2 separate regions of the Homo sapiens genome follow, and region 2 is linked to region 1. The links come from fine-mapping of genetic effects on gene expression. Tissue or cell type: whole blood. Region 1 holds a variant in brackets; the other region holds the start of a gene. All regions are shown on one strand. Distances are between the middles of the regions.

Evidence for each region. PIP is the estimated chance that this variant, and not a neighbour inherited with it, causes the effect.
Region 2: it holds the start of LINC01011, and the variant in region 1 is fine-mapped to the expression of LINC01011 in whole blood (TOPMed, PIP above 0.99).

What each region holds. Positions count from the first base shown.
Region 1 is chr6:3,051,892-3,062,437 of GRCh38, forward strand. LOC124901242 (a long non-coding RNA gene) reads left to right here and starts at 3,197. Exons shown (of 2, transcript XR_007059409.1): 1 at 3,197-4,133; 2 at 4,608-5,466. RefSeq lists a silencer at 1,802-2,031 and an enhancer at 2,644-3,436. The variant G/A (reference allele first, on the strand shown) is at 4,133.
Region 2 is chr6:2,984,024-2,994,569 of GRCh38, forward strand. LINC01011 (long intergenic non-protein coding RNA 1011) reads left to right here and starts at 3,944. Exons shown (of 3, transcript NR_026856.1): 1 at 3,944-4,008; 2 at 5,505-5,710; 3 at 5,846-7,148. NQO2-AS1 (NQO2 antisense RNA 1) reads right to left here. Exons shown (of 2, transcript NR_186367.1): 2 at 5,313-5,988. RefSeq lists enhancers at 3,886-4,695, 4,696-5,505, 5,506-6,315, 5,879-6,038, 6,316-7,123 and silencers at 4,889-5,308, 9,890-10,074.

The DNA of each region.
Region 1 (10,546 bases):
GTAGCGAGGGCCATGCACTGTCTGTCTGAAAGTGCATAAGGGCTCCAGGCACAGGCTTTGTGTCCAAGTACCTTGCTGTGTTTAAGGTACATCACAGCACCGGAGAATGTGGGAGAGGTCACATTCATCCCTTCAAAGCGCAGGGAGGTTCCTATTCTGACACCAGCAACACTTACAAGAATGAACCTAAAGCTGGGCAGTGAGGAAGGAAAGGAAAAAGAAAGTTTATGAATACAGGTAGTATTGTTTGAACCGGTAAGTTGCACTATAAATCACAATAAAAGATAGTCTGTATATCACTAAAACAGAAGAGTTGGCCGCCCTGAGGATGAGGCCTTTGGGTCTCCAGGCATTTGCCAGCTCTCCTAGCCTAGGGGCAGGGGCACCTGCACAGCCCTCTGCTTTTCCTAGAATTCTCAGCAGCGAGCATGTGTCAGGGAGAGACATGGTTGTCTTAGCACTGACGCTGAAATCCTGGATGTTCTTGGGAGGGCAGTGATTGTGAAGAACAAGCTACTAGTCTAGTCCCTGGAGGTCACTCCTTAAAGCCTCCCGATGAGGCAAGTTTACAGGATCCATGCTCCCTGAGCCAGCAGTGACACCCACACTTGGCAGTGAGAAGTGGGGCTGTAACTTACAGGGTGAGCCAAAATGGGATTTATCTTAAAGGAAATTTAAGGGATCTTAAAGGAAAAAGAGAGGAGAGTGAATGACCTCATCATTAGCTGGGAGGCTCTGCAGTGCCCTGGTAGACAGTCACTGCCTGGAGGTGACTTTGTAGAAAGCAAACTTTGGCTGTCACAGCGCATAGGGAGGCCTGGGAAAGCCCAGGGAAGCAGGAGTCTGGTCGGTGAGGCCGAGGAGGAGGGCCCTTCTCCTGACCCCACGGGCGTGGCTTGGCCAGGCAGCTCAGGACTTGCTTCTCCCCACGGCTTGGCCCCCTTCTCAGGTCGCTCTCAATCTATGGGGAACCTAGAGGGAAGGAGGCTGCCCATGGCGCACACCGTGGAGGGACCCTGAGGACAGCGGAGAGCAGGTCTAAGGTGAGGCAGGTGCTCTCAGGTTAAAGATAGGGGAAGAATCTGAAGCACTATTGCAGACGGGCCCCCAGGAGGGTTAAAGGTCAAGGTGGAGGCGAAACTAAGATTGGAAGGTGAGTATGCAGCCCAGAGTCATGGAGGTTCCAGAGCGGGTGATGGTTTCTGAGAAGCTCCAGGCTCTTCACGAGTTCTTTGAAAGCCGCTGGCGTTGACTCCATTACTAGCAATGAGTGGGACACATTTCCTAACCCATACACACGTTTGTTCAGCTGGACCCCTCCTGGCAGGAGGGCTCATCTCTGGGCAGGTGCTGGGGCCACAAGACAGATACGAATGGAACTTTGTACTCTTCGGGGACGGTACGGGGGGCGGGCAAGAAACAATAAACAAGCCGGCAAAGAAAGCGCCACAAAATTCCAGGTGGCGGTAAGTACCAAAAACTATGGTACCTAATAGTGATAAGCAAATAAAGTACTCTAGCGGATCAAACAGCAGGGGAATGTTTGCTATTTTAGATAAGTGGTACCGGAAGGTGTCTCATTGCAGGGACAGTGAATGGTGACCTAGAACCTCCGGGGAGGCTGCAGGAGGGAACTGCCTCTCCCAAGTCCCTCGGTCTCCGGTAGGAGATCACTCACCCTCCAGCCAGCGCCGGCCGGGGTAGGAGCCGCAGGTCTGGGACCAGCGCCTCTGCGAGGACAGCTCTCTGAGTTGCGCCAGGTTCCAGCTACAGGGCCACGTCCCGCAGACCAGGAGCGCTGCGGCTCCGCCCTGGGGGACCAGGTACCCGCACAACCCAAGCAGCCTGGGACCAGGCCCGCGGGACTGCAGGCTTGTTTCCGCAGCGCGCCCGCCACACACAGGCCCCGCCCACGCCGAGGCCGCACCCCGCCTCTCAGCCCCGCCCACACCCCGCCTCCGGCTCCAAGCTCCGCCCACGCCACGCCACGCCACCGCAGTCCGCCTCCGGGCTCGTCTAGCCCTTCAGGGCTGGGGAGGACCCTGCTGGGTTTCGAGGAGGTGGAAACTGGACCCACAGGAATGGAGCGCGGAGGCCGGGCGCGGTGGCTCACGCCTGTAATCCCGGAGGCCGCGACGGGCGGATCACCTGAGGTCAGGAGTTCGAGACCAGCCTGGCCAACACAGTGAAACCCTGTCTCTACTAAAAATACCAAAATTAGTCTGGGCGTAGTGGGGAGCGCCTGTAGTCCCAGCTACTCGGGAGGCCGAGGCAGGAGAATTGCTTGAACCCAGGAGGCGGAGGTTGCAGTAAGCCGAGATCGTACCATTACACTTCAGCCTGAACTGCAGTGAGACTCCATCTCAAAAAAAAAAAAAAAAAAAAAAGGAGTGCTGGGACTCTGTGCGGGGAGGAGGGACGCTCCTGCTCTATGCCAACCCCCGCCCCATCCCTGGCAGATATCCAGGTTACAGAATGAGAGTCTGTAGTGCGACAAAAAGAATGAGCCACTGGTACTCCACACCCATCAGCCTGCTGGATCTCCCGGGGAGTTACGCTGGTGAGCGAAACCAATCCCAAAGATCACAGACGGGGGATCAATTTCTCCAAAGGACAGAGGAGAGAAATGCAGGACTCATTAGCTGTGCCCAGGAGTTAGGGAGGCGGCGGGTGTGTGGCTATAAAAACGCAACCCGGGGGGTGCCTGTGAAGGAAATCTGCGTCCCGCAGAACGCAACACGCCGTTGGGATACTGGACCGTCCTTTGTGAGATGCCACCATTGGGGGAAACCGGATATGCATGGCTCCAAGGAAAAAGTTCGATTAAAGGAAAGTGGTTTAAGGACAAGGAAATGGCTAGAAAATGGAAAGTCTTGGAAACAGAGCCAGTTGGGGGTTGGGAGGGCGGTGGGGGGAAAAGCAAGATAGATCAGATTGTTACTGTGTCTGTGTAGAAAGAAGTAGACATAGGAGACTCCATTTTGTGCTGTACTAAGAAAAATTCTTCTGCCTTGAGATTCTGTTAATCTATGACGTTACCCCCAACCCCGTGCTCTCTGAAACATGTGCGTGTCAAACTCAGGGTTAAATGGATTAAGGGCGGTGCAAGATGTGCTTTGTTAAACAAATGCTTGAAGGCAGCATGCTCCTTAAGAGTCATCACCACTCCCTCATCTCAAGTACCCAGGGACGCAAACACTGTGGAAGGCCGCAGGGTCCTCTGCCTAGGAAAGCCAGGTATTGTCCAAGGTTTCTCCCCAGTGTTAAGTCTTACACCTGCCCACTCAAGAGGCAGGAGTTAATCCCAGAGGTCTGTGTCCTAATGCATTATGGCAAATGGATGTCACGCATGTCCCTTCATTTGGAAGATTGTCATATGTTCATGTAACAGTTGATACTTATTCACATTTCATATGGGCAGCTTGCCAGACAGGAGAAAGTACTTCCCATGTTAAAAAACGTTTATTGTCTTGTTTTGCTGTCATGGGAGTTCCAGAAAAAATCAAAACTGACAATGGACCAGGATATTGTAGTAAAGCTTTCCAAAGATTCTTAAATCGGTGGAAAATTTCACATACAACAGGAATTCCCTATAATTCCCAAGGACAGGCCATAGTCCTTGGGTGCATGGCTCCAAAGAAAAAGTTCGATTAAAGGAAAGTGGTTTAAGGACAAGGAAATGGCTAGAAAATGGAAAGTCTTGGAAACAGAGCCAGTTGGGGGTTGGGAGGGCGGTGCTGGTGAACAGTTTAGGCCGATTGTCTTTTTTTCTAGTGTTTGCTGGCTTCTGCCCCCTCATTTGGCAGTCACCTGCCACTGTGACCTCCCCAAGACCCCTCTCCAAACTCTATACCTTGATTTCTGGTGTCCCGGAAATAGAGACCAGAAACACTGATGTCCCACTCCAACGATAGAGCAGAAGGAAGGAAGGTTTCCCCTGTGGTTTAGAACGTTCCTAACGAAAATAACTGCAACTCTTGATTGCACCTCCTGAGGGTCGTTGGGACTTTCCCTCTCAGACATTTATTGGTTCATTCATTCGTTCATTTTGCTGTAACTCACAGTGGCCCCCATCCTAAGGTGCACTGCTGGGATTGGTCTATGTGCTGATGATGTTCTCCTTGTCTTCAGA[G/A]GTGAGAATGTGCCCTCCCTCCGAGATGCCCTCTTGCCCCTGAGCTCCCCAGCAGGGAACAGGCTGCCTTGTCTTGTGAGTCCAGATCCTGGGAACAACTTTCATTTAGGAATGGAACAGCAGGTCCTGGGAGCATTGGCGCCTGCGCGCCCATCATGCGCGTGTGTGATGCAACATCACCACCTTGTGGCAGCGAGGAGCTATCACAACGTGGACTGAGCAAGTTGCTCCCTGCTTGGGGTTGGGAGCTGGACTGGCCTAGTTCCCTGGGTCTTTTTTTGTTGTTTTTGTTTTTGTTTTTGTTTTTGAGACAGAGTCTCGCTCTGGCCCAGGCTGGAGTGCAGTGGCGCGATCTCGGCTCACTGCAAGCTCCGCCTCCCGGGTTCACGCCATTCTCCTGCCTCAGCCTCCCGAGTAGCTGGGACTACAGGCGCCCGCCACCACGCCGGGCTAAATTTTTTTTTTTTTTTTTTAGTAGAGACGGAGTTTCACCGTGTTAGCCAGGATGGTCTCGATCTCCTGACCTCGTGATCCGCCTCGTGATCCTCCTGATCCTCGAAGCCGCCCGCCTCGGCCTCCCAAAGTGCTGGGATTACAGGCGGGAGCCACCGCGCCTGGCCGTTCCCTGGGTCTTTTGAGTGGTGTGAGTTGAATGGTGGTAGATTCTAGGACAGTTCAGTAGGAGCCCGTCCTCAAAAGGAAAATAACAGAACTTCCTGCTAATCTGGTATTGGGGCTGAGCAATTACTGCACACTGATGAGATTGACCATAATTGCATCCTGAGTTTGAAGAGGAGGTCACGCTACTAAGACGAGATAAAATCAGCTCCAACGACAAACATCATCTCTGGGGGTTTCCAGATTCTCAATTTTCATTTAATCCCCAGCCTTAGTGGAAAGCAAGAGTCGGAGTCGGCATTCTGGGCAGGGAGGCAGGTGAGGCAGGTACACATCTCCTCTTCTCCCCAACGCCCCATGTTTCTATTTCTGAATAAAATGAACCATCATGGTGCTAAGGTAAAGCTAAACTAGCTGAGCCACCTCCTGAAGAGGACATTGCTTTTTTTTATTTGATGAGATTTCTTTCCCTTCTGTTACCAGCATCTCCATCCCTTTGGGAAACTGACTCTTAATAACAGAGTTTTTTGTACTTTTAAACTTTGTTTTTGTGTAGTCAAATATGTACAACATAAGATATGCTGTTTTATCCATTTTTAAGTGGACAGTTCAGAAGCATTAATTACATCGACTATGTTGTGCAACCTTTCCTGCTATTTATTTCCAAAACATTTTTCAACAGAACAAATAAAAACACGGTACTCATTGTAAAATAACTTCCCATTCCCCCCTCCTTTCATTACCGGTAGCCTCTAATCTACTTTCTGTCTCTATGATTTGTCTGTCCCATGTACTTCGTATAAGTGGAATCCTACAAAATGGGCCTTTACAGTCAGCTTATTTCCCTTGAAAACCTTGTTGGCAAGTTTCATCAATGTTGTAATATGAGTCAGAATTTCACTTCTTTGTGGCCGAATATTAAAAATGCACGGGTCGTTTGAGATTTGTGAATAATGCACCAATGATTCTTGGCATATATGTATCTGTGTGACTCCCTGCGCTTAATACTGTGGGTATCTACCGAGGAATGGAATTGTTATAACAATTCTATCGTCATCCTATGTTTAGCTTTTTGAGGAATAGCCAAAATGTATTTCGCAGTGTCTGTGCAATTTTACATTCCCACCAACAATGTATGAGGGTTCCAATTTCTCCATATTTTCACCAGCATTTATTATGTTGCTTTTTTTCCCCTAAATTATAGCCATCCTAGCAGATGTGATGTGGTATTTCATTGGGTTTTTGATTTGCATTTCCCTAATGACTAATGACTTGAATCGTCTTTTCATGCATTTACTGGCCATTTGTATACCTTCCTTGGAGAAATGTCTATCCAAGTCCTTTGCTTATACTTTAATTGGATTGTTTGCCTATTCATTGTTGAGTTGTAGAAGTTCTTTATATTCTGAATTTATCAGCTATATGATTTGCAAAAATGTTCCTTCACTCTGTAGGTTGTCTTTCTTGATAATATCCTTTGATACACAAAATTTCAGATTTTAATGAAGATTACTCCCAGTGGATTTTGTTTCTTTTTGTTTTTTCATTGTTGTTTTGCAAGAGATTTTGCTATCATATCTAAGAGCCTATTACCAAACCCAAAATTATGAAGATTTGCTTCTATGTTTTCTCCTAAGAATTTTATGATTTTAGTTTTTATATTTAGTTCATTGCTTGTGAGGGTTTTTTTAATACGGTGTGAAGCAGGGTCTAACTTTACTCTTGCATGTGGAAATACAGTCCTTCCATATCATCTGTTGAAGACTATTCTTCCCTGAATTGAATACTGCTTGGCACCCTTGGCCATAGACATATGAGTTTATTGAGGATCCCTTGTACATGTCTTGCTGCTTTTATGATTTTCTCTTTGTCTTATACAGACATCCCTCATTTCATTGCATTTTGCTTTAGCGCAATTCAAAGATATTGTGTTTTTCACATATTGAAGGTCTGTGGCAACTGTGTCAAGCAGGATTTTGGGACCATTTTTCCAACAGCATGTGCTCATTTCTTGTCTCTGTGTTACGTTTTGGTAATTCTCACAATATTTCAGACATTGTCATTATTATTACATCTGTTACAGTGATCCGGGATGTTACTACTATAATTGTTTTGGGGTGCCACAAACTAAACCCATATACGTTGACAAACTTAATGGATAAATGTTGTGTGTGTTCTGACTGCTCCAGTGAGCAGTCATTTCCCATCTCTCTCCCTCTCCCAAATTCTTTGAGACAACACAACAATATTTAAATTAGGGTAGTGAAGAACCAACCCTATAATGACCTTTAAATCTTCAAATAAAAGGAAGAGTTGCATGCCTGTCACTTTAAATCAAAAGTGAAAGACGATTAAAGTTAGGAAGACATGTCAAAAGCCAAGATAAGCCATAAGCAAGACCTCTTGCACCAAACAAGCTGCCAAGTTGTGAATGAAAGAAAAAGTTATTGAAGGAAATTAAAAGTGCTGCTTTAGTGAACACATGAATGATAAGTAAAACAGCCTTATTGCTGACATGGGGAAAATTTAAGTGGTCTGTATAGATCAAACCAGCCACAGAACTCCCTTCAGCCAAAGCCGAATCCAGAGCAAGGCCCCAACTCTCTTCAATCCTATGCAGGATGAGAGAAGTGAGGAAATTGCAGAAGAAAAGTTGGAAGCTAGCAGAGGTTGGTTCTTGGTTCATGAGGTTTAAGGGAAGAAGGCATCTCTGTAACATAAAAGTGCAATGTGAAGCAGGAAGTGCTGATGGAGAAGCTGCACCAAGTTATCCAGAAGATCTAGCTAAGATCATTGATGAAGGTGGCTACACTAAACAGATTTTCAATGTAGATAAAACAGCCTTCTATTGGAAGAAGATGCCACCTAGGACTTCCATAGCTAGAGAGGAAAAGTCAATGCCTGGCTTCAAAGCTTCAAAGGATAGGCTGACTCTGTTGTTAGGGGCTAATGCAGTTGGTGACTTTAAGTTGAGACCAATGCTCATTTACCATACTGAAAATCTTAGGGCTTTAAGAATTATGCTAAACCTACTCTGCCTGTGCTCTCAGTGGAACCACCAAGCCTGGGTGACAGCATGTCTCTTTACAGCATAGGTTACTGAGTATTTTAAGTCCACTGTTGAGACTCACTGTTCAGAAAAAAAGATTCCTTTCAAAATATTACTGCTCATTGACAATGCACCTGATTACCCAAGAGCTCTGACGGAGACGTACAAGGAGATGAATGCTGTTTTCATGCCTGCTAACACAACGTCCATTCTACAGCCCATGGATCAAGGAGTAAATTCAACTTTCAAGTCTTATTATTTAAAAAATACACTTCCGGCCGGGCGTGGTGGCTCACGCCTGTAATTCCAGCACTTTGGGAGGCCAAGGCGGGTGGATTAACCAAGGTAGGGAGTTCGAGACCAGCCTGGCCAACATGGGGAAACCCCGTCTCTACTAAAAATACAAATATCAGCTGGGCGTGGTTGCGGGCGCCTGTCATCCCAGCTACTTGGGAGGCTGAGTAACGAGAATCGCTTGAACCCGGGAGGCGGACGTTGCAGTGAGCCGAGATCGCACCACTGCACTCCTGCCTGGGTGACAAGAGTGTGACTCCATCTCAAAATAATAATAATAATAATAATAATAATAATAATAATAATAATGATAATGATAATAATAAACACAAAATAATTTTTAAAAGGCTATTAGCTGCCAGATATAGTGATTCCTCTGGTGGATCTGGGCAAAATAAATTGATAAATTGCTAGAAAGGTTCTCACCACTCTTGATGCCATTAAGAACATTTGTGATGCGTGGAAGGAGGTCAAAATGTCAACATTAACAGGAGTTTGGAAGAAATTAATTCCAACGCTCATGGAAGACTTTAGGGAAGGAAGTAGCTGCAGATATGGTGGAAATAGAACAGAACTAGAATTAGAAATGGAACCTGAAGATGTCACAGAATTGCTGCAACCTCATGATAAAACTTTCACAGATGAGGAGTCACTTCTTATGGATGAGCAAAGGAAGTGGTTTCTGGAGATGGAATCTGCCTCTGGGGAAGATGCTGTAACCACTGTTGAAATGACAACAGGCCGGGTGTGGTGGCTCACACCTGTAATCCCAGCACTTTGGGAGGCCGAGGCCGGTGGATAACCTGAGGTCAGGAGTTCGAGACCAGCCTGGCCAACATGGTGAAACCCTGTCTCTACTAAAAATACAAAAATTAGCCAGGTGTGGTAGCACATGCCTGTAATCCCAGCTACTCGGGAAGCTGAGGCAGGAGAATTGCTTGAGCCTGGGAGACGGAGGTTGCGGTGAACTGAGATTGTGCCACTGCACTCCAGCCTGGCTGACAGAACGAGACTCTGTCTCAAAACAAACAAACAAAAACCAAAAGATTTAGGATATAACAAAGTAAGTTGATAAAGCAGTGGCAGGGTTTGAGAAGATTGACACCAATTTGAAATAAGTTCTACTGTGCATAAAATGCTATCAAATGGCGTTACATGCTACAGAGAAATCTTTCATAAAAGGAAGAATCAATTGATGAAGCCAACTGATTTTAAAAAATTGCCGGCCAGGCACGGTGGCTCACGCCTGTAATCCCAGCACTTTGGGAGGCCGAGGTGGGTGGATCACGAGGTCAGGAGATCGAGACCATCCTGGCTAACACGGTGAAACCCCATCTCTACTAAAAATACAAAAAATTAGCTGGGCGCAGTGGTGGGCGCCTGTAGTCCCAGCTACTGGGGAGGCTGAGGCAGGAGAATGGCGTGAATCCGGGAGGCGGAGCTTGCAGTGAGCTGAGATAGCGCCACTGCACTCAGGCCTGGGCGACAGAGCGAGACTCTGTCTCAAAAAAAAAAAAAAGAAATTGCCACAGCCACTCCAGCCTTCAGCAACCACCACCTTGATCAGTCAGGTTCATTAACATTGAGGCGGGCCACTCCACCAGCAAAAAGATTATGACTCACTGAAGGCTCAGATGACTATCATCATTTTTTTTAGTGATAACATGTGTTATGATTAAGGTATCTACATTTTTGAGACATAACGTGCACTTAATACACTGCAGTATAGTATATAACTATTATATGCATAGGGCTGCTAAAGCGTTGCGTGATTTGCATTATTGTGGTATTCGCTTTATTGTGGTGGTTTGGAACCTACCCCACAATATCTCTGAGGTATGCCTGTATATTGCTGGCAGGAATGTAAAATTGCACAGTAGCTTTGCAAAAACAAGTTTGGCAGTTCTTCAAAAAGTTAAATATAGAGTTATACCATATGACTCACCAATTCTACCCACTGGTATATATCCATGATAAGCTCAAGAAAACATACCTCTATACATATATTTATACATGAATGTTGATAGCAGCATTATTCATAAATATATTTATACATGAATGTTGATAGCAGCATTATTCATAATAGCCAAAGATGGAAAAAACCCAAATGTCTGTCAATTGAAAGGGTAAACAAAATAGATATATGTATACATATTATTATATTATTCAGCCATAAAAAGAAATGAAGCCTGACAAATGCTACCTTGAACCATCATGAATGAACCTTTAAAACATTATGCTAAGTAAAAGAAGCAGCCACGAAAGACCACATATTGTATGGTTCATTTTGCATGAAATCCCCGAAATAGGAAAATCCAGAGACAGAAAATAAATCTGTGGTTGCCAGGGATTGTGGGAAGGAGGAAATGGAGAATAATTGCTAATGGGTATCACAGTTCCTTTTAGGGTGATGAAAATCTTCTGGAGTTAGATAGTGGTGATAGTTGCACAGC
Region 2 (10,546 bases), 68 kb before region 1:
AACTTATCTGGGATGAATGAGAAGACGAACTGGAGCTGGAGGTGGGACTGTGTCTTTTGAGATAGGAGCCTTGGCTGTGACCCATACAATGTGTAAGGAGAGGCATCACACCTCTTCCACCCCTACAAGTTGATACTCTCATATTTAAAATCTGAGTTAAGGCCAGGTGCGGTGGCTCATGCCTGTAATCCCAGCATTTTTGGAGGCCGAGGCAGGCGGATCACTTGCAGTCAGGAGTTTGAGACCAGCCTGGTCAACATGATGAAACCCTGTCTCCACTAAAAATACAAAAAAAAGTTAGCCAGGCATGGTGGTGTGTGCCTGTAATCCCAGCTACTCAGGAGGCTGAGGCAGGAGAATTGTTTGAACCTGGGAGGTAGAGGTTGTAGTGAGCCAAGATCACACCACTGCACTCCAGCCCAGGTGACAGAGTGAGACTCCGTTTCAATAAATAATAATAATTAATTAATTAGCCAGGCGTGGTGGCAGGCACCTGTAATCCCAGCTAGTTGGGAGGCTGAGGCAGGAGAATCGCTTTAACCCGGGAAGCTGAGGTTGCAGTGAGCCAAGATTGCGCCATTGCATTCCAGCCTGGGTGTCACAGCGAGACTCCATCTCAAAAATAAATAAATTAATAAATTAAAATAAAATCTGAGTTAAATTTAAATAATTGTGTTGTTCTGGAGATTTTTTAAAAAATATCATCACTGGTCATAAGAATTTGAGGAATAGCTAAATAACAAAACAGAGGTTTCTCTCTCTGTCTCTCTTCCTTTTTCCATAACAAGAGAAGCTCATCTTCTTATCTGGTCTGGAATCACTTGGGTGACATTTCAAAATGCAAATTAAGAGCCAGGTGGGCAGGTCCCCAATGCGTTGGGATGGGCCGCAGCTGACTGGGCAGCCTCCCTTGAGCTCCCAGGACTTTGCCGAAGGGAGTGGCGTCCATTTGCATGAGGAGCTCAGGAAAACTGCTCCTCAGGTGCCGAGTTAGAGACACCTAGTGAGCTTCACCAGAGTAGTTTTGACCAGGGATACAACAAAGCTCCTAAAACTGAAAAAGCACGAAAACAAAAATGGTTGTGAACAGGGCTCAGCGATGACGAGGCTACATTCAGCCAGTGTGTGTCTGGTGCCATGGTAGACACACCCCTGGGATCCTGCCGCCCTGGCACAGGGGGTGCTCTGGGAGACAGAGGCTGGAATTGGACTGCATTGCAGCCAGGTGGCCTTGGAGACCCAGAAGGGTGCCTCCTTGGGCAAACTTAATGTTCCCCCTAAAGAGATCCCTTTGAAGATCCGCATGGCTTTCACACAAAGGGCGTGGGGTTTAGTTCCAAAACGTAGGCTTGGGTATTATAGAATAAAAGCAAAAGAGGGCACAAGATGTGCATTTTCATTATGTTTACTTAGTGAAGGGTGGGCAGACATTTTCATTATTTTTGGGTTTTTTGTTTGTTTGTTTTTGAGACAGAGTCTTGCTCTGTAGCCCAGGCTGGAGTGCAGTGGCAAGATCTTAGCTCACTGCAACCTCCGCCTCCTGGGTTCAAGTGATTCTCCTGTGTCAGCCTCCTGAGTAGCTGCGATTACAGGCACCCATCACCACGCCTGGCTAATTTTTGTATTTTTAATAGAGACGGGGTCTCACCATGTTGGCCAGGCTGGTATCAAACTCCTGATCTCAGGTGATCCACCTGCCTCAGCCTCCCAAAGTGCTGGGATTACAGGCATGAGCCACCGCGCCCGGCCCATTTTCATTATTTTTAAACAAAGGCGAGCAATTCACTTTCTGGGTGCCCACCTGAAGTAGAGAATCCCAACCCCTTACCATGAAAACAGATAATCTGTTCACTGAGCCCCAAGGACAAAGCAGCCAGGGTCGACTGAGGGGCTACTGCAGCCTTCCTCTCTGACTCCTCCCACCTAACCATTCCCTCAATACCTCAATACACACACTCCTTTCTTTCCCAAGTCTATTGCCTCTTCCAAAAGCAATGTAAGATCCGCCCCAGAACAGTGGGGAGTTCTTATCCTTTCCGTTACCTAAGCAACCTGAGGGCAAAGACCTTTAGATCACCGGCAGTGCTGTTCTTTGGGTAACTTGATCTTTGCTTATCAGCTTTAATAACTTTATTATACGAAATACCCAGCCTTGATGAAGTATCGATGACTCACTAACTGTGGTGTAACTAATTGTTTCATTCATTCTACAAACTTTTTTTTTTTTTTTTGAGACAGAGTCTCACTCTGTTGCACAGGCTGGAGTGCAGTGGCGCGATCTCAGCTTACTGCAACTTCCACCTCCTAGGTTTGAGCGATTCTCCTGCCTCAGCCTCCTGAGTAGCTGGGATTACAGGCGCGTGCCACCACACCCGGCTATTTTTTGTATTTTTAGTAGAGACGAGGTTTCACCATGTTGGTCAGGCTGGTCTCAAACTCCTGACCTCGTGATCTGCCCACCTTGGCCTCACAAAGTGCTGGGATTACCGGCATGAGCCACCGCGCCTGGCCTCATTCTACAAACTTTTATTCTGCACTCACTATAGGCTGGGAGCTACACTAGGGCCTGGGGACATGAAGACAGGCGACACGGTCCCTGGGCTCAAGATGCCAGACAGATGTGCAAACAAGTGAAATCTGATGTGATATGTGCTTTAGTGGTGCCAAGGATAAAAGGATAAGTGTTAAGAAAAAGTAGCAACAATATGTCTGACTGGGAGAATCAAGAAAGGTGTCATAGAGTCCCTAACACTTGAGCTGAGAATGAGAAAGAGCATGAGCTGGCCAGGTGACACACAGAGCATATTCCAACCTAGGAGACTGGGAAATGGGCCAAAATATATACGTTTGAGGAAACAAATAGCTTACTATATAATTAAATATGAGGCAGTTTAGACTGGGCCCTTATGGATAAGTCACACCCATAAATTTTATTTCATCTTACAGGCAGTGGAGAGCCTCTGGAGGATTCTGAGCTTCGTGGTCTCATCATCAGAGTTATGTATGGCAACCATCCCAACCTTTTTGGCACCAGGGAGGGGTTTTGTGGAAAACTATTTTTCCTTGGACAGCAGAGGATGGTTTCGGGATGATTCAAGCACATGACACTTCTTGTGCACTTTATTTTCAGTGGGAGCCCTGAGCTTGTTTTCCTGCAACTATCTGGCCCCATGTGGGGGTGATGAAGACAACGGCAGATTATCAGGCATTAGATTCTCATAAGGAGCGCACATCCTAGATCCCTTATGTGTGCAGTTCACAGTAGGGTTTGTGCTCCTATAAGAATCTAATGCTGCCTGATCTGATAGGAGGCAGAGCTCTGGTGGTAATGCAAGCAATGGGGAGCAGCTGCACATACAGATAAAGCTTCACTAGCTCACCCACTGGTGGCTCACCTCTTGCTGTGTGTCCTGGTTCCTAACAGGCTACAGACCAGTCAGGTCTGTGGCCCGGGGGTTGGGAACTCCTGGTGTATGGAAGAGACTACTCTGCAGCAATGTGGACAAATAGGATGAGGGTGAGCTGTCAGGGGAGACAGGCACACATGGCAGAGCTATTTAAAAAGGAGGATAGATGACCAGGCACAGTGGCTCATGCCAGTAATCCCAGCACTTTGGGAGGCAGAGGCAGGCGGATCACGAGGTCAGCAGTTCAAGACCAGCCTGGCCAACATGGCAAAACCTCATCTCTGCTAAAAATACAAAAATTAGCTGGGCGTGGTGACATGCGCCTGTAATCCCAGCTACTCAGGAGGCTGAGGCAGGAGAATCACTTGAACCCGGGAGGCAAAGATTGCAGTGAGCCGAGATCGTGCCATTGCACTCTAGCCTGGGCAACACAGCAAGACTCTGACTGGAAAAAAAAAAAAAAAAAAAGGAGGATAGACAGGGCTTGGGGATTGGTGGATGGGTAGATAAGGAAGGAGGAGTCTAGCATGACTCTCAGACTACTGACTTGGACCAGCAGGGGAATGGCTGTGACAATAAATAAGATTGGGAAAACAAGAAGGTGAGCAAATTTAGAGGAGAAAATGAATTTCATTTTTGGCATGGTGTGGAAGGCTCGGGAGAGAGGTCTAGGCACCAGATGTCAACGTGAGGTGAAATGGATATAGCTGAAGTCAAGGGTGTGGTGAGGTTTTGCAGGGAGAGCAGGGACCTCCAGCAAGGCCAGTGCATAAGGGAGAATAGAGAAAAAAAGAACCAGAAAAAGACAAGGAGAGGCCAGAGAGGTGTGGAAAGAACCAGGGAAGACAGTTATTCACAACAAACAAAAGAGGGCAGAGTTTTAGAGAAGGAACTGAGCAGTTTGGGGCTCCAGGTGGGGCAGGAGTGGGTGGCCACGGTTGAGGGGCAGTGGCCTTCAAATTGGTCTGGGTAGGTTCTAATGGGTCAGATTGGTCAGTCCTTTCCAGGACACTGAAGGCTGCAGAGGTGTGACTGGATGCTGGTGGAGGGATGCATGGCGGGGAAGCTGAGTCAGATCCTGAAATCCTCCAAGCATGCGCCTGAAATGACCAAGGGAAATGAAGGCGGAGGCTGCTGTCGCCTGGTGGCCTGGGAAGGGCCAAGAGCCAGGGAGCTGGAGGGAGGAGAGAACGTGCGACCTCAGCACGGAGCACTGTAGGGGAGGCGGGGCTGGAGGGAGATGGCGCCGCGCTCCCGGATGAACAGAGAAAGCGACAGGGTGAGTCGCAGGGCACAGTGTGGGATGAGTCACCGACAGCAAGGCATGGACTCCGGGAAGAAGGGGAGACGAGCCGGGAAAGACTTGCATCGGGGATGTGAGCTGAGCTGCACCCAGACAAAAGCGGCTCGGGGCTCCTGAAAGCAGCAGGCACCGCCGGTCCTGCCAAGGGGCTACTTCCTGCGCGGAGTAGGAGAGTAGGAGACCCCAGGCCAGTCCCAATCCCCGGCCCGTCCGGGATGAGGGGGGCTGCGGGAGCTGCGGGGGCCTCCTCCAGGGAGGACGGTTGCAGGGTCCCTCGGCCGCCGCCCACTCCCGGGGGCGTTCCTTCCTCCCAGCTGCGCCCGGAGCGCCTGCTGCCTGGCGAGAGCCCGCCCCTCTGCAACCAGCCCGCTGCAGCGGAGGGCGCCTGGGTGCCCTCGGCCGAGCCAGCAGCCCACGGTCGGCGCCGCACTGTCCCCTGGTGGCGGAGCGCTCCCGCGACCCGGCTCGCCACGCCTGGGAGGGGTCCAGGAGGACGCGGCTGGGACCTGGGGGCTCTCAGGGTGGGGCCTTGGGGGATGAGGCTGGGGCCCGCGGGAAACCGGGCTGGGGCGAGGAGGCTCGCAGGACTTCCTGCCACAGAATGTTTCGATGCTTTTTTTAATTCTGCAAATGTAAGCCTTTCCACTTTAAGTCCAAGCTCAGCGCAGAGGACTGTTCTATAATACATACAATTTAGTTTAAAAATGTTGCAAATGTTAACATGTGTCACAAACTCAAGCAATCCAGTATTATAGAAAGCAAAGAATGAAATGTGCTGCTTCTTTCTCCCCCAGACGCCCTTGCATACATTAAGATATGTATATATGGAAATGTTACCGGGAGTCCCGGTTATCCCAAAAAGGGTTGTTTCCTGTTGCGTGGTGAGGCCAATGCACGAAACCGAAAGGGAGTGTGTCAAGCAGTGCAGGCTGTATTCAATGGCTATGGAATTGGAAGATCTGAAATCAACTTAGCTTGTGAGAGCTGGGAAGTTTCAGAGGTAGGGTGTCTTTAATGAAGGGGCTGGGCATTAAGAGCACGGGGGGGAATATTCGTGCTTTCCTTGGGAAAGAACGGAGATTTTTCCCGGAATCAAGAAACCCCTTTTTTTCTGTCCCTTCTTGGTCTCTTCCAGTCGTTGTCATGGCGACATGTTGTTTAGCATGAGAACAGGATGATGATAAAGCCAGAGGCTCTTCAGAGGCGCCATCTTGGATTTCGCCAGCTTCAGCTGGTTTCGTCCTAAGAAGGAACTTCGAAACACAGGCATTCTTTTTCCTGAAAATAAGCAGAGTTACAGCTGAGTAGGAATTTAGCTCTGTCCCATATGCTATCGCATTGGGCAGCAAAAGCAGGGTGGGGTCCAGCGAAATCAGCAGGCACTGCAATGAGTAACATACCCAGCCACGTTTATGCAGCATTTTTACGAAAATGAAACCATACTACCTGTAAAGGAAGATATGCTAACAAACAACAAAACTGGCAGGAACCAAGATTCCTACTGACACTACCCTTAGTTTTAATTTTCCCTGACAACAAATGAGGTTAACAGAGCATAATTATCTACCGTGACCCCTTCAAAAAGACAGGCTGTATACATTTGCACTAAGAGAAGAAATCGTGTAATGTCAGCAAATTTCCCCCACTTAAAGCTTCTCTATTTAAAAAGCTTCACGCACACATGCACGCATATGTCTTCAAGATGACCACAATTTATTTTGCAGTCATTCTTTGCACCAGTTCCCAATTTTTCCCACTAGCTTGCAAGCTCCGTGACTCGAGGAGACCGGGGGATCAGAGTTTGTTTTTGCGGAGAAGTGAGTCCTTTATGCCCCAAATAGTGACTGACATAGAGAAGGTACTCAGTAAACACTTTTTAAAGGAATGCCTGCCTGACTGAAGCTTAATGATGTGAGGCTTCTAGTGGGATACCCTACCTTGTTTTAACCTGAAGTGACTCTTCCTTAGCTAAGAGAGCCAGACGGACTCCATCGTGACTCCTTCACTCGCAGCCCCTTACCCACCCCCTTCCTCAAGGACTTAACTTGTGCAAGCTGACTCCCAGCACATCAAGAATGCAATTAACTGATAAGATACTGTGGCAAGCTATATCCGCAGTTCCCAGGAATTCGCCCGGTTAATAGCACCCAGAGCCCCTGCGTTTGTGTCCGGTTGATAACGCCCAAAGCCCGGCGTCCATCACCTTAGGATAGACTTAAAGCCTCTGCACCTGGAACTGTTTACTTTCCTGTAACCGTTTATCCTTTTAACTTTTTGCCTACTTTACTTCTGTAAGATTGTTTCAACTAGACTCCCCCTCTCCCCTGTCTAAACCAAAGTATAAAAGAAAATCTAGCTCCTTCTTCGGGGCCAAGAGAATTTCGAGCGCTAGCTGTCTCTCGGCTGCCGGCTAATAAAGGACTCCTGAATTCGTCTCAGAGTGTGGCGTTTCTCTGTAACTCGCTCGGTTACAACACTAGGTTAATCTTTTTCCTTTAACTGTTTGTTTAAAATATATTATGTTTAAGACCTTCTAACTGGTCAGCCTCCAAGATAGTATTGTGCTGGGCTTGCTTTATTCTGGTTTGGTTTCCATGATCCCAGTTCATGTGTTACCTGCTTCTCTTTTGAATTCACAATGATACACAACTTTTAATTTGTTAGAACACAAACATAAGGAATTTTTTTTTCCATTTTAATGTGAGATATGACAGAGGCAAATTGTTTCTTAAAGACATAAAATAATTAAAATAATTACATAAATTGTAATAAAATAATTATTACAATGTTCTATCTTTGGCATTAAGGCATAGAACAATTTTTTAATCCTAAACTAGGCTGGGCATGGTGGCTCACTCCTGTAATCCCAGCACTTTGGGAGGCTGAGGCTGGTGGATCACTTGAGGCCAGGAGTTGGAGACCAGCCTGGCCAACATGATGAAACCCTGTCTCTACTAAAAATACAATAAAAAATTTAGCCGGGTGTGATGGCGCTCACCTGTAGTCCCAGCTACTCAGGAAGCTGAGGCACCAGAATCGCTTGAACCCGGGACGCGGAGGTTGCAGTGAGCTGAGATATAGCGCCGCTGCTCTCCAGCCTGGGCAACAGAATGAGACCCTGTCTCAAAGTAAATTAAATAAATAAAATCCTAAACTGTAGGACCAAGATTTGATTCAGAAAAGAGACTTTCTTGTACTAATTTATACACTGTTCATGTCAGATCCAATCTTTCTTTTTATTAGATGAATCTGGAAAAGCAACTTAGAATAATTCAATCAGTCTAAAAGAATAACAGCTGATGAGATGCAGTCAATAAGCAGTTTTGTATTAGTATTTTTATAAGAAATTAGAAAAACATGATTTTGGGGGAGATCTTCTCATAGTTAACAGCACATATAACATATAAGTTAGAAATGTACTCTGCTAGCTCATAAGATTTTAAAGCAGGGATTTTAGTGTCATTAAACTTTTATTTATAATAGTTTTTTTAATACAATTTTTTTTTTTACTTTGGAATAACTTTAGATTCACAGGAAAGTCAGATAATACAGGTAGTTACCATATTCCCCTAACACAGTTTCCCCTAATGGTAACATATCACCATGGTAGTGTTGTGAATTCTTATGTTGGGTTGCCTCCACATCCATTTTGAATATACATTGGACTTTCCCACACCAAAATCAAGGCTCAGTCACCCCGGACAAAGTTGCTGGTTCTCCACCTTCTCCCAGTTCTGTTATGTGGTGGATCCAGATATCTGCCTCATACAACTATCTCCTGTTGACCACTTCTCTATGGCACAGCTAGAACCTATTGGCCACACTGACCCTCACACCCCACCTAGAATGTGCAGATGCGCCACAGGGCCCACCACTCAGTCACTGTGCCACCTCCTGGAACTCATGCCTGCTTGCTGTAAACCCACCGAATAAAACTCCCCATGGGAAACCTGTTTGGATAACACCCTGGACCCAATAAAGGTGTTGGCCCATGGGTTGCTGTCTTGGTCTCTCTGCCTGCACTCCCTGATTTCCATGAAGGTGGCCTCCAAGTATGCCATGTGCCCCAGGATCTGTAAGTAATAAACTATTTCTAGCCTGTGTCTCTCCTAATCGTTGTAGGGGTGCTCCGCATCTTGAAGATCTTAAAGTAAAACAGATACATTTGTGGAAACTAAGGTCCCAACGTTGTACATTACTATTAACTCCAGGCTTCATTTGGGTTTCAGTTTTTTCATTAATATCAGCCTAAGTTTTTAAAAAATAGTCAGCCGAAAAGAAGGATTTAATTTTATGTGGTAATTTCTGCACAAACATAATATTCTTGAGAAACATCTTGTCTATCAATAACATGTTTAACTATATATTATATCAATATGCTCAAGAAATCAGGCCTTGGTAAAGATTTTTCTTTTTTTTTTTTTTTTTTGGGACGGAGTCTCGCTCTGTCGTCCAGGCTGGAGTGCAGTGGCACGATCTCTGCTCACTGCAAGCTCCGCCTCCCGGGTTCAGGCCATTCTCCTGCCTCAGCCTCCCGAATAGCTGGGACTACAGGCACCTGCAACCACGCCCGGCTAATTTTTTGTATTTTTAGTAGAGACAGGGTTTCACCATGTTAGCCAAGATGGTCTCGATCTCCTGACCTCGTGATCCGCCCGCCTTGGCCTCCCAAAGTGCTGGGATTATAGGTGTGAGCCACCGTGCCCGGCCCCAAGATTTGTCTTTACTAAGTAATGCATGTGAAATATAATAACTGACAATGATAATACAGTGACCAGGTAACTCAAAAATTATAAGTCATTCAATTGAATAACATAGTGTTTTTGAAATGTAAAAAGATAAATATAAATAATAAGTCATATTAAGACAAAATTTATTTAACTGATAAAAGTAAAATTTGTTATTCTCTCTAGCTGTATAGATAAGACAGGATCTCTATAGTGCATTATTTCAAGACTTACTTAGTAGGAAAACCAGTAGGTTTGATTTTTTTTTAAATGCCACTTTGGTTTTAAAGCACTCGCTTTGTCCACTAGTTTTCTAGATCTGAGTATTGGCTATTAATGACATATTTCTAAATTATACACATCAATAATGTGACAATAGCTTCAGGTCAGGAACTACTGTGTGATTTAGATGTTTGTTCCTTCCAAACCTCATGTTGAAATTTGTTTCATCTTTTTTCTTGTTTTCATAGATAAGGGCCTCGCTCTGTTACCCAGGCTGGAGTGCTGTGGTGTGTTTGTGACTCACCGTAGCCTTGAACTCCTGGGCTCAAGCAATCCTCCCACCTAAGCCTCTGGAGTAGCTGGGACTACAGGTGAGCACCGCCAAGCCTGACCTCAAGTTGAAATGTGATCACCAATGTTGGAGTGGGGCTTAATGGGTGGTGTTTAGGTTGCAGGGCCAGATCCTTATGAATAGATGAATGCCCTCCCTCAGGGGTGAGTGAGTTCTTCCAGAGCTGGTGGTTAGAAACAATCCTTGACCTCCCTCCTTTCTCTCTTGCTTACTCTCTTGCCATGTAATCTCTGCACACTCCAGTTCTCCTTCACCTTCCTCCATGAGTAGAGGCAGCCTGAGGCCCTCACCAGATGCAGATGCCCAACCTTGAACTTTCCAACCATTCAGAGTCATTAGCCAAATAAACCTTTTATCTTTATAAATTACTCAGCCTCAGGTATTCCTTTATAGCAACACAAAACAGACTAAGACAGGAACCTACACTCCTTAGAAGAAGGCCATATGATATAAGGGTGTTGAGTCTAAGATTTTAGTGTCTACACTTCGTCTTACATTTTCCATTCTTTCCATTTTCACAAGTCCTATGATACAG